Linked DNA regions of Homo sapiens: region 1 is linked to region 2. Evidence: fine-mapped expression QTL. A gene starts in region 2. The other region holds a variant in brackets. All regions are shown on one strand. Distances are from middle to middle.

The links. PIP is the estimated chance that this variant, and not a neighbour inherited with it, causes the effect.
Region 1: its variant is the best candidate, but not a certain one, in a credible set for the expression of CYP4X1 in unexposed skin (GTEx, PIP 0.70).

The regions. Positions count from the first base shown.
Region 1 is chr1:46,810,821-46,816,189 of GRCh38, forward strand. It overlaps CYP4B1 (cytochrome P450 family 4 subfamily B member 1), which reads left to right. Exons shown (of 12, transcript NM_001099772.2): 2 at 1-129; 3 at 320-364; 4 at 1,676-1,803; 5 at 2,662-2,786; 6 at 3,089-3,243; 7 at 3,389-3,495; 8 at 4,254-4,444. Among named protein-coding and RNA genes, the nearest start is that of CYP4B1, 14 kb to the left of the region's middle. The variant C/A (reference allele first, on the strand shown) is at 2,170.
Region 2 is chr1:47,020,442-47,025,810 of GRCh38, forward strand. It overlaps CYP4X1 (cytochrome P450 family 4 subfamily X member 1), which reads left to right and starts at 3,228. Exons shown (of 12, transcript NM_178033.2): 1 at 3,228-3,553. The coding sequence starts at 3,377. It overlaps LOC124904172 (a long non-coding RNA gene), which reads right to left and starts at 1,822. Exons shown (of 2, transcript XR_007066062.1): 1 at 1,107-1,822; 2 at 1-654. RefSeq lists an enhancer at 3,522-4,022.

The sequences.
Region 1 (5,369 bases), 210 kb before region 2:
GGAGCCTGGACAAAGTGGTGTCCTGGGCCCACCAGTTCCCGTATGCCCACCCACTCTGGTTCGGACAGTTCATTGGCTTCCTGAACATCTATGAGCCTGACTATGCCAAAGCTGTGTACAGCCGTGGGGGTGAGGAGAGAGGATGGGGATCTCAGGAGAGGGTGGGGCTTCCTGAGAACAAAGGGCTCAGGGCATGATATGGGGAGGAAGCCTGGGCCTGTGTACTAAGTCTGCGGAGCTGAGGTTCCCACCCTACTCATAAATGAGCCTCCTCTAGGAACCCCGGGTCCCTGCTTGACCTGATTGTCTCCTCCTGCAGACCCTAAGGCCCCTGATGTGTATGACTTCTTCCTCCAGTGGATTGGTGAGTGAGCACCTGCCTTCCCTGCCCTGCCAACCTCAGACCCGTGGTGCTGGGTGACTAGGATCCTGGCCTGTCCCACTCAATTGGTTATCCCAGATGGCCTAGTTCTCGGGTGCCCATCCTAAGCTCAGCTGCTCAGTGGAGAGACAAGGGAGGAGCAGGAGAGCCCCCAGCTGTGGGGCCAAGGCATCTTCTCTGGCAGGGCCTGATTCTCTAGACAGGGCAAAGGCTTTGGAGAATGTGTGAGTGCGAAGAACAGTTTCCTGAAGGAGGTGGCACTAGAGTTGATCCAAAAGGAGATTTAAATAGGTAGTGCTGGCCAGGGCAAGGGCCTAAGGAAATGGTGTGGTGGTAGGACCACGGCTGGTCACCAGAGGCTGTGAGGCTGTCGGGGTGGCTACAAGGCAGAGCCCAGCTTGGAGATGATGCTGGGCAGGGAGGACAGGCCAGCCTTGACTGCCAGGATAAGGAGGTGATTTGATGTTGAGAGTAGGTGGGAGTCATTGAGTATTTTATTTTATTTTATTTTACTTTTTCCTTTACAGAGGTACTCAAGTTAAAGCCATTGAGTATTCTTTAGCCAAGGCCATATGCTTCTCCAAAGCTCCTCTTTTACTCATGATCCTATGGTGTCTTCAGCGTTTTCCTGGGAGCTGAGAAAGGGCAGGGCCAAGAGGGAGAACACATTCCCAATCCTATTTACTCACCGAGTACCACTGGGAAGACTTTTTGCTTCTAACCCTCTTTTTAGTTATCAATGGGAGGATAAAATTAGAAGGCAGACAGAAAAGGGTTAGGAAAATGAAGAGGTGGTTTTGAAGACAGGAATGCATTTCCATTGCTGGGTGTGTTGGAGTGGGGTAGGAAGGGTCCCACCTGAGGCCATGAAGCACGAACACGGTGGGACATTCCCTAAGTCCTGAAGCTGTGGCCAGTCTCAGCAGCTGAGAGTCAAGGCTCAGCAGGCTCCCCCTCTGCTTGGCTGTCCCCAGGGGGATGCGTGTCCTTTGTCTCACATCTGGCAATGTCATCTGACACAAGTTCCTGGACCCAGGCTTTGTGGGTGCAGCTGAGATACAGAAACTGAGTTATCCTGTCCTAAGGAAGGAGCTCACTCAGCCAAGAACTGCTGCCACCTGTCTCCTGAGGTCCTGGTAGCCTAGGGTGAGGGCATGGAGGGCAATACTGGGTCGCTTAGTGGCCCACCCTTGGAGGGTTCCAGGCTCAGGGATGGAGTCGTGTAGGATGTGCTTAGCCCCAGGCTGCCAGGGCCTGGACTGACCAGCCCTCTCTCTCCCATCCCTTCCCCAGGGAGAGGCCTGCTGGTTCTTGAGGGGCCCAAGTGGTTGCAGCACCGCAAGCTGCTCACACCTGGCTTTCATTATGATGTGCTGAAGCCCTATGTGGCCGTGTTCACTGAGTCTACACGTATCATGCTGGTGAGCTCCCTGTGCCAGAGTACTGGAGGCTGTTGCCTGCTGGGCTAGCCCCTCTCCACCCTGATTTTGTCCTGGGGAGAGTAGGTGGTGCTCTGCAGTAAGGAGAATAGCTGAGCCCCAAGGCCTGTTCTGCCTGCAACAGCAGTGCCAAAGCCCTGCTCTACTGACATGTGCCGCAGGCTGCCACTGAGTCGGTGCTGAATCTCTAAGTGTCCTGGCAGCCCGATCCTTGTCTCCACCAGGAGACCCAGCCCTCTTTCCTCCCAGGCCAAAGGGTCTCTGTGAGAACTTAATAAGGCTCCTAGCATAGCAGGTTTGAGGACTGCCTATATTTGAGAGTATGGGGAAAGGCTTTCACATCTAAAA[C/A]GTGTCTCCTCATTTTCTGTCTACCACAGCTGCCCAGAATTATGTCAATACAACTCATCTCTAAGAGGGATGTCAGAGGTCAGGGTTAGAGTCTTAGGGCTGGGTAATCCCTAAGTTATCCAGGCTAGTCTTTCCCCTTGTAGGAAACTCCCCTCCAGGATTACTTACATATACACCATGCGGGGGAGCTCACCACCTCTCAGCCATCCTACTCCCTTATAGGCTGCCCTGACTGGGAGAAAACGTCTGTGTGCTGTGCAAGATCTGCCTCCTGGTCCTGCCCTCTGAGCCTGAAGCCCAGAGGCTTCCAAACTTCTACCCACCCTATCCTGATATTCCAGCAGGATGGAGGGCAGGACAGGGACTGGGAGTGTGTGAAGGGGGCTTGGTGGTGGAGGATAGGCTACGGGTCCTGGAGGGCAGCTTGGGGCATCCAGCCCAACTAACCCCTGCATCGCCTCCTACACATTGCCTCCTATCCCTGGACTCCAGGACAAGTGGGAAGAGAAAGCTCGGGAGGGTAAGTCCTTTGACATCTTCTGCGATGTGGGTCACATGGCGCTGAACACACTCATGAAGTGCACCTTTGGAAGAGGAGACACCGGCCTGGGCCACAGGTCAGGAGCCACCTCGGGGCTGACCGCACTGTCTCCAAAGCCATCTTAGAGGGGAGAGTTGGCAGGGGTCCTGGGCTCTGATCTGAGAAGAGATAGGGTCCTGCCCCAGGGAGCCTTAGCTTGCGGGGAGACAGGACCTGCTCATGGTGGGGTAAACACCTGGCTTTAGCAAGGAGGCTTAAGGGCAGGGAGAAGAAGAGCAGGATGCTCTGTGGTTGGGGCTAGATTCCTGGAATGGAGTTTCTCTGGCTCTGCTCCTGGGCCAGTGTCTAAGCCAATCCCTCCTCCTACCCTCTGCTTAGCAGGGACAGCAGCTACTACCTTGCAGTCAGCGATCTCACTCTGTTGATGCAGCAGCGCCTTGTGTCCTTCCAGTACCATAATGACTTCATCTACTGGCTCACCCCACATGGCCGCCGCTTCCTGCGGGCCTGCCAGGTGGCCCATGACCATACAGGTGGGCCTTTCCCACAAGGCTCACCTCTAGGAAGCCTGGGTTCCTCCTCCTGGCCCCTCTATGCCCCCTCCCATTATAGGACCCCAGTTCCCCTTTGGACAAAAGATGGCTTCCCAGGCAGTGACACTCTGTGCTTTTGGTTCAGACCAGGTCATCAGGGAGCGGAAGGCAGCCCTGCAGGATGAGAAGGTGCGGAAGAAGATCCAGAACCGGAGGCACCTGGACTTCCTGGACATTCTCCTGGGTGCCCGGGTGAGTACATTGTTGCCCACCCCTACCTGAGGACTGGTCCCAGAGAGGTCTTCAACCATCCTCCCAGGACAGCAGAAGGAGCTCTTAAGCATTTCCCCCTTTCCTCAGCAAATATAACCTGTTCCTCGTCCCATGAAACATATTAGCAGGGGTTCAGAGGTGGGCAGGTGTAGGGTGTGTGTGCCTGAGCTGTGGAGTTGGGAGCCTAGGTCACGTGGTAGTGGCTGGACGACATTTCTAGACTTCTAAGATCCCCCAAAATGTTGGCCTTGTAGAATCCTAGAATCTTAGACTTCATTCATTCATTCATTCATTCAGTAAGTTCTTTATTCATCAATTCTAGAAACTCACTGAGTTCTGACTCTGGGTCATTTCCGTGCTAGGATGCAGAGATGGGAAAGACCTGGCCCTTCCTTCCAGATGCTTACAGTCCAGCAGGGGAGACAGTAGGTAGATGTTGACCAAAATGTCTTCCTCTGGCAGGTGGTATTCTATGTGCCCAGTGAGCAGAACAGTCAGGGCTGGACAAGGTCACAAGTCATTTGGCCAGAGCATTTAGGGAGGGCTTTGTGGAGGAGGAGGCATCCAGGCTGAGCTTTGAAGGAATATAGGAATCTGGGGGAAGGTCCTAATCCACCCTCTGAAAAGGAGCTTTCACTCCCTCCCAGAGACCTTCATTTGACAACCACCATTATGAGTTCTTCTTGTTACCCACCTCCAATACCTCAAGCTGTCCTATTATGCCTTCCCTAACCCAGGATGAAGATGACATCAAACTGTCAGATGCAGACCTCCGGGCTGAAGTGGACACATTCATGTTTGAAGGCCATGACACCACCACCAGTGGTATCTCCTGGTTTCTCTACTGCATGGCCCTGTACCCTGAGCACCAGCATCGTTGTAGAGAGGAGGTCCGCGAGATCCTAGGGGACCAGGACTTCTTCCAGTGGTGAGTCTGAGGGTGGGCCCGGTTTATCCTGCTCAGCCCTTGGGAAGGGCGATGCCCATCCTGTCCTGAACCATCCTGGAAATCAGGTGAGGTGGCGGCTGCTATCCTGTTACCCCCAGTGTCATACCTTTTGTGGTGGTGGGGGGTGGGGAGAGTGGTTGGCTGGGCACAGATGCACCCCTGAGCCCATTCTCCCAAAATGGAGCCTTTCAGAAGTGTTATGTAGAGAAAGTTGTCAACAAGAGGCTGATATTTTGTGTGCTAACTTCTTCTGACGGTAGAACCTGATTACCCTTCTGGGTCCCTGGATAGAGTAGGGAGAGCTGGGAGAGAAAGAGGTGGAAATGTGGGGGTGAACAGAGCTGAGACAGCTGGGAGAGCCAGTTCCTTGCTACTTGCCTTTGGATGGCAATACTCAGCTTCCAGATGCCATATCTCTCCTGCTGGTGAAGGAGAAAAGACTTCCCCAAACTTCATCACTTAAAAACTTTCCATTGTTTTCCCCTGTTTCTTGGCTCAAGACTGAACTCCTAAACACTTAAGGATTGACCCTGACCTCTCTGCAGTGTGATCTCTGGGAGTCTCTCAAGAGGCTCCTTCACCCTTGCTGGCTGCCTGTTCCCCTCAGGCCTTTGCTTGTGGTCAGACAACCTGCCTTTCTCTCTGGGCTCCTGAGCAGCCTCCAAGAGGGGGCTAGGCACACAGCAGGGGTACAGAAAATGCTGAGCCAGAGGGGGAACTTTAGATCCACTTGAAAGGGACTGACCTATAACTCCAGGGTCTAGGACCTGGAGTATGAAGCCTCCATTACCATTTCTGTTGGTCATATGTGAGAATCCCCCCCCCACGGGGTATCCAGACACATGCCAGGTGCTATCAGGGGTGCAGAACGGAAGAGAAAGAGAAGCCATGCTGCTCGTGGGGA
Region 2 (5,369 bases):
TGCATCCCCACTAGCCTGGACGGATTTCATTACTGGCTCCTTTGTCTGGCAAGGATATCAGCATCACTTTCTGTGATAGCTACCTTAAAAGTACTTAAGCGACCCTTGTCTCCCCAGTGCATTGAGCTCCCAGCATGTGCCCAGCACAGGGGCCTGGGACACAGTAAATGTTCAACCCATGTTTACTAACTGAGCACATGAGCAAATCAGAGAGCAGTGAATCTCTGGAATCCCACATTGGTGGGCTGCAATGCTATCCTGGGATACAGCTCCACAAAATTCTAGACTTTTATCCCCATGGTTCCATGTTCTTAAAATTCATTTATTATTAAGTAATAATAGACTTCCACATCTTAATGGATCAAAAATATAGATTGCCATACTGAATTATTATAATTTCGGTCAAAGGTTAGTTACCTTGCACTGCCCTGTTTGTAGACAAATGTATGCTTTTCTTTGGGCTGTGTGTAGGATTGAAGCAGCTACTCATTGGCCTTCATTTCTTGTCTCTTGTGTCTGAGATGGAAGGAGCCATCAGATGAGCATTGGGAGAGGCACAGGCCTCCTTCTGGGAGTCTCATGGGGCTTATTTCCATCTAGAGGCACCACTATCCAGGTTGATGGGATTTTTTTTGGTATCTCCAATTCCCTGTACTGTAGCCAAGAAAATTCAATTCAGTAGATATTTGTGCAGGAATGCCAAAAAAAAAAAAAAAAAAAAAAAAAAGGAAGGAGGCGCTGCTCTGTTTTTGGCCTCCAGAATCATATTTTTGAGTTGTAGCAAGTATCAAAAGCCAGTCTTTGGCCAGAATAAATAATTTTCTAAATTCCTTTCTCTCCCATTAGCCTGCCCTGTTGGAGTAGATTACAGAACTTTATTCTCCACCAGGGATAGCAAAAACACAAGCAATAACATAAGGATATTTTCTACCACATGAAATGGAGGTTGTGGGGAAAACCCACCTCTTGCAGCCTGGTGGACTGAGGCAAAAAGTGGCAGAGGTCGGGTGGTCAAGAGAGTATCTAATTATCCCCCTCTAGGCTAAAATCCTGGGATTGGGGTTTAGATAGAGTGAAAGGAAAGTTGAGAGCACAGGGGATTTTACCTTGCATCTTTTTTTGGAGAAACCAGAGTGAAAATGGCAGTGAAGCAGAGAAGGCCTGAACTTCAAGCCTCTTCAACACCTTCCAGCCTCTCTTAGGCTCCTAAATATAGTGCAAAAAGTTCCAGAGTTCCTTTGTTACCCATGAAAGCACATGGAACGGTGCTGGACAGGGGCAACTGGCCCTGGAGCAGAGGAGTAACTGCATAGAACTGTCCAAGCCTCAGAGGGAGTCACACCACCAGCAAGAACCTGGGTGGGAGTAGGTGAGCCAAGGGGTTCCCAGGCTCTGACCCTGCCAAGAGAACTCATTAGAAGGTCACCAACCACACATACTATTCCTCGGTCTCATGAAGAACCCAGGGACCGGACCAGGCAAGATATCACAAAGCTGAAGTTTCAGCTCTGGGGCAGAGCATGGATCTGAGGTCTTTGGCCCTACCACCATGCGATCATATGAGGGCCATCATACAACCATCATGATTTGGGGGAGGAATAGGGCATAGAGGAATCATATGAAAAGCTGAAATGCCATGAGTTACCCAGAAGAAGCTGTGTAAGCCAGAGGATTCTGAGACCCTGTCAAATAACAACATCTAGTTGAAGGTTGGAGTTAGGTAGGAGGTAGGGAAGTCTGGGAAAGAAGGAGCTGAAACACTTGCTGTGTGTGGCTTAATGGAACATGCAAGGGGCCAGGACGAACTTGGTCCAGATGAAGTCACCACCCCTGGGGCCTGTCTTTTTTTTTTTTTTTTTTTTTTTTTTGAGACGGAGTCTCACTCTGTCACCAGGCTGGAGTGCAGTGGCGCGATCTCGGCTCACTGCAATCTTTGCCTCTCGGGTTCAAGCGATTCTCCTGCCTCAGCCTCCTGAGTAGCTGGGATTACAGGCGCGCGCCACCACGCCCAGCTAATTTTAGTACTGTTAGTAGAGATGGGGTTTCACCATCTTGGCCAGGATGGTCTTGATCCCTTGACCTCGTGATCCGCCCGCCTCGGCCTCCCAAATTGCTGGGATTACAGGCGTGAGCCACCGCGCCCGGCCCCCTGGAGCCTGTCTTAATCACTTACCCGCCAAATAAAATCTGGCTCCAGAGAGTGGAGCGTAGGCTTAAGGAATTGGGGGCGGAAGGGCGGGGAAGGTGGGGGAGGGACAGTGATAGGGAGAACAGGGAATTGTAGCAGAAATTGGGTTTATTGTTCAGAGCTGTCAATGAACACTTAACATATGCCTGTCTTAGCCTAAATCAATGAATAAATGAATGAATAAATAAATGAATGAAATGTGGGCAATGCCTATAAAGATTGCTGGGACAGGGAGGTGGGGGGAGACACCAGCTTGGGAAGTCAGGCTTGTTAGATCCTAGTTCACCACCTGATACGTTACAAATACTAAAACCATCACTTTCAAATTATTTTTACTACATTTTCCTGTTATCTGTACTCGAGTTTATTTATGTTTCTGGCATCTAGAGTCAGCCCTTCATGGGCATGAGACCCAAGCAGCCACACGAGGCTCTGAACCCAGAAGAGCATATGCTCGGTTTAATGGTCTGTCATCTTAGAATTGTTAATAAAGTTTTTATCCCGCATTTTCATTTTGCACTGAGATTCATAAATTATATAGCAGGCCCTGACTGTACCTGTATAGTGGAATTACTATATGATGGTACGCTACTGTGCATATCTTCCCCGTTCAGTGTTCAGTGCCCTCGTATCGGCAGCTTGAACTAGCTCATGGTACACGCTGGGAATCAGGGTGGGAATCAGTTGTAAACCATTTACCGGAACACCACTAGGCAGGCCACAGGATAAAGGAATAATGATGGTACACCTCCCCCTACCTCTACCACCTGGGAATTTTGGTAGAATGCCAGAATGGAAAAGAAAATCTCTTGCATAGCCATTTATAATTTGTGATAAGGAAGAAAAACAATGACCTCAGCTTTAGCATTATTTTACAATATAAATTCAGATCCCGTGACTGAAAACTGTTGGACTTAAAAGAGGACGCTCCAGGAGCGCAAAAGCAGTTGGGCCGAACGAAGCGTGCGCGCTTTGGTAACCGGCTAGAAATCCCGCACGCGCGCCTGCCTCCTCTCCCCAGGCCTGAGCTGCCCCTCCCACTGCCTTTCCTTCTTCCCGCGAGTCAGAAGCTTCGCGAGGGCCCAGAGAGGCGGTGGGGTGGGCGACCCTACGCCAGCTCCGGGCGGGAGAAAGCCCACCCTCTCCCGCGCCCCAGGAAACCGCCGGCGTTCGGCGCTGCGCAGAGCCATGGAATTCTCCTGGCTGGAGACGCGCTGGGCGCGGCCCTTTTACCTGGCGTTCGTGTTCTGCCTGGCCCTGGGGCTGCTGCAGGCCATTAAGCTGTACCTGCGGAGGCAGCGGCTGCTGCGGGACCTGCGCCCCTTCCCAGCGCCCCCCACCCACTGGTTCCTTGGGCACCAGAAGGTAGATGGGAGGGAGGAGGGAGGAAGGAGGAGGGAGGGGCGGAGGAGGATGCGGCAGAGGAGCCCAGCCGGCAGAGAGACGCAGCTTTCTTCCATCCCTGGGGACCCTCCGGCTTGCACTGGCCTTTCCAGCCCGGCCTGTGGCTCTTAGCATCATTTTTCCTTGCTCTGGAGAATTGCTTTCCCGCAGCCCCACAGGGAAAGGTCACAAAAGAGGAAGCTTTGGGGGCTGGGAGAGAGCTATTTAAAGAACCTGAATATGGAAAAAGAAAGCGAGCTGTAACTCAAGTCTGTCTCTCATTGCTTCACCAAGCCTTCCACATGTGTTGCTTTAAAAATAGCATGTTATTCTAAATAACTTATTAGTTGCAGAAAATATGCAAAATCTATCCCAATCGTTGGCACCCTTAGTCCATTTTAACAAGAGAAAATTTTCTTTTCCTAAGATTCTTGTGAAGTAAGGAGCAGCCCCAGCCAGCCACTCGAGAAATACTGATTGATGGAAATTTGTAAAGGGAGACTGTTAGCTTTTGGTCTCTCCCGTTTTTTAAATCCACTCCCACCCCTAATTAAGGTTTTTATTCATTCAACCGACTCTGAGTGGCAATTGTGTGATAGGTACTAAGATTACAAAGAGAAGCTAAGTCCCTCCCCTGCACCACCCAAGTCAGGTGCAGACTTAGGCCACAGAGAGAAAATGAAAATTTAAGGCAATGGGTGCTTTACTAGAGGCCTAGAGACAAGGGAATATCTGTCGGAGGAAAGTATACATCTCCGCCTAGAGAAGGAAGGAAAGTCTGTGAAGGGCTGAGCAGAGTCTTAAAGGATGGTTGGGTGGTGTGGGGAAGGCATTCCAGCAGAGCTACTACACGATCCTTTGGTTTCCCCACTTTCTAGTCTTTCTTATATAAAGCAACCACTTTCAACTCTTTTATCGGTTTCTTCTGGTATTTAAATACTTATTTGTAAAATAGTATTACCATATTGCATCTATTAATTTAATAAGTTTAGACATCTGCTGTGGTTTAGATATGGTTTGTTCGTCCCCACCAAGCCTCATGTTGAAATTTGATTCCCAATGTTGGAGGTGGGATCTGATGGGAGATCTTTGGGTCATTGGGATGGATCCCTCATGAATGTCTTGGTGCAGCTGTCTCCTTCATAAGTTCTCACTCTCTTAGTCCCTCTTCAACCCCCAGAACTGATTGTTGAAAAGAGCCTGCCACCTCCTCCCCTCTCTCTTCCTGTCTCTCACCATGTGGTCTCTGCACACAACTGCTCCTGTTCACTTCCACTATGAGTGGAAGCCGTCTGAGATCCTCCGCAGATGCAGATGCCAATGCCATGCTTCTTGTACAGCCTGCAGAATTGTAACCCAAATAATCCTCTTTGTGAATGACCCAGCCTCAGGTATTCCTTTACAGCAACACAAATGTACTAAGACAACATCCACCTATGAACTTCTTTATGACAGGCAATCACTTACACTTCATATTCCACTGTCCCAGTAACTATATAGTATTGTATTTTTTAAATAGAAAAACTTCTATTTGTATTATTTTTATTATGCAAATGTTATTTACTGCTGATCTAAATGGTCCTCTTTCATTTTATTTCTTTTCTCATAGAACTTTTCCCCACCCCCACAGTATTGTTAACTTCTTCCTTTTCTAATCTGCTTCATTTTTCAATATTTGTCACTATTTTTTTCCAAATCCTCTAATAGATCTGTCAAACACATCTAAATAATATTTCCAAATATGCAAACATGCCAAATCTGTTCGTTTTTTTGGAGATATTTTTGCCACAGACCTCTC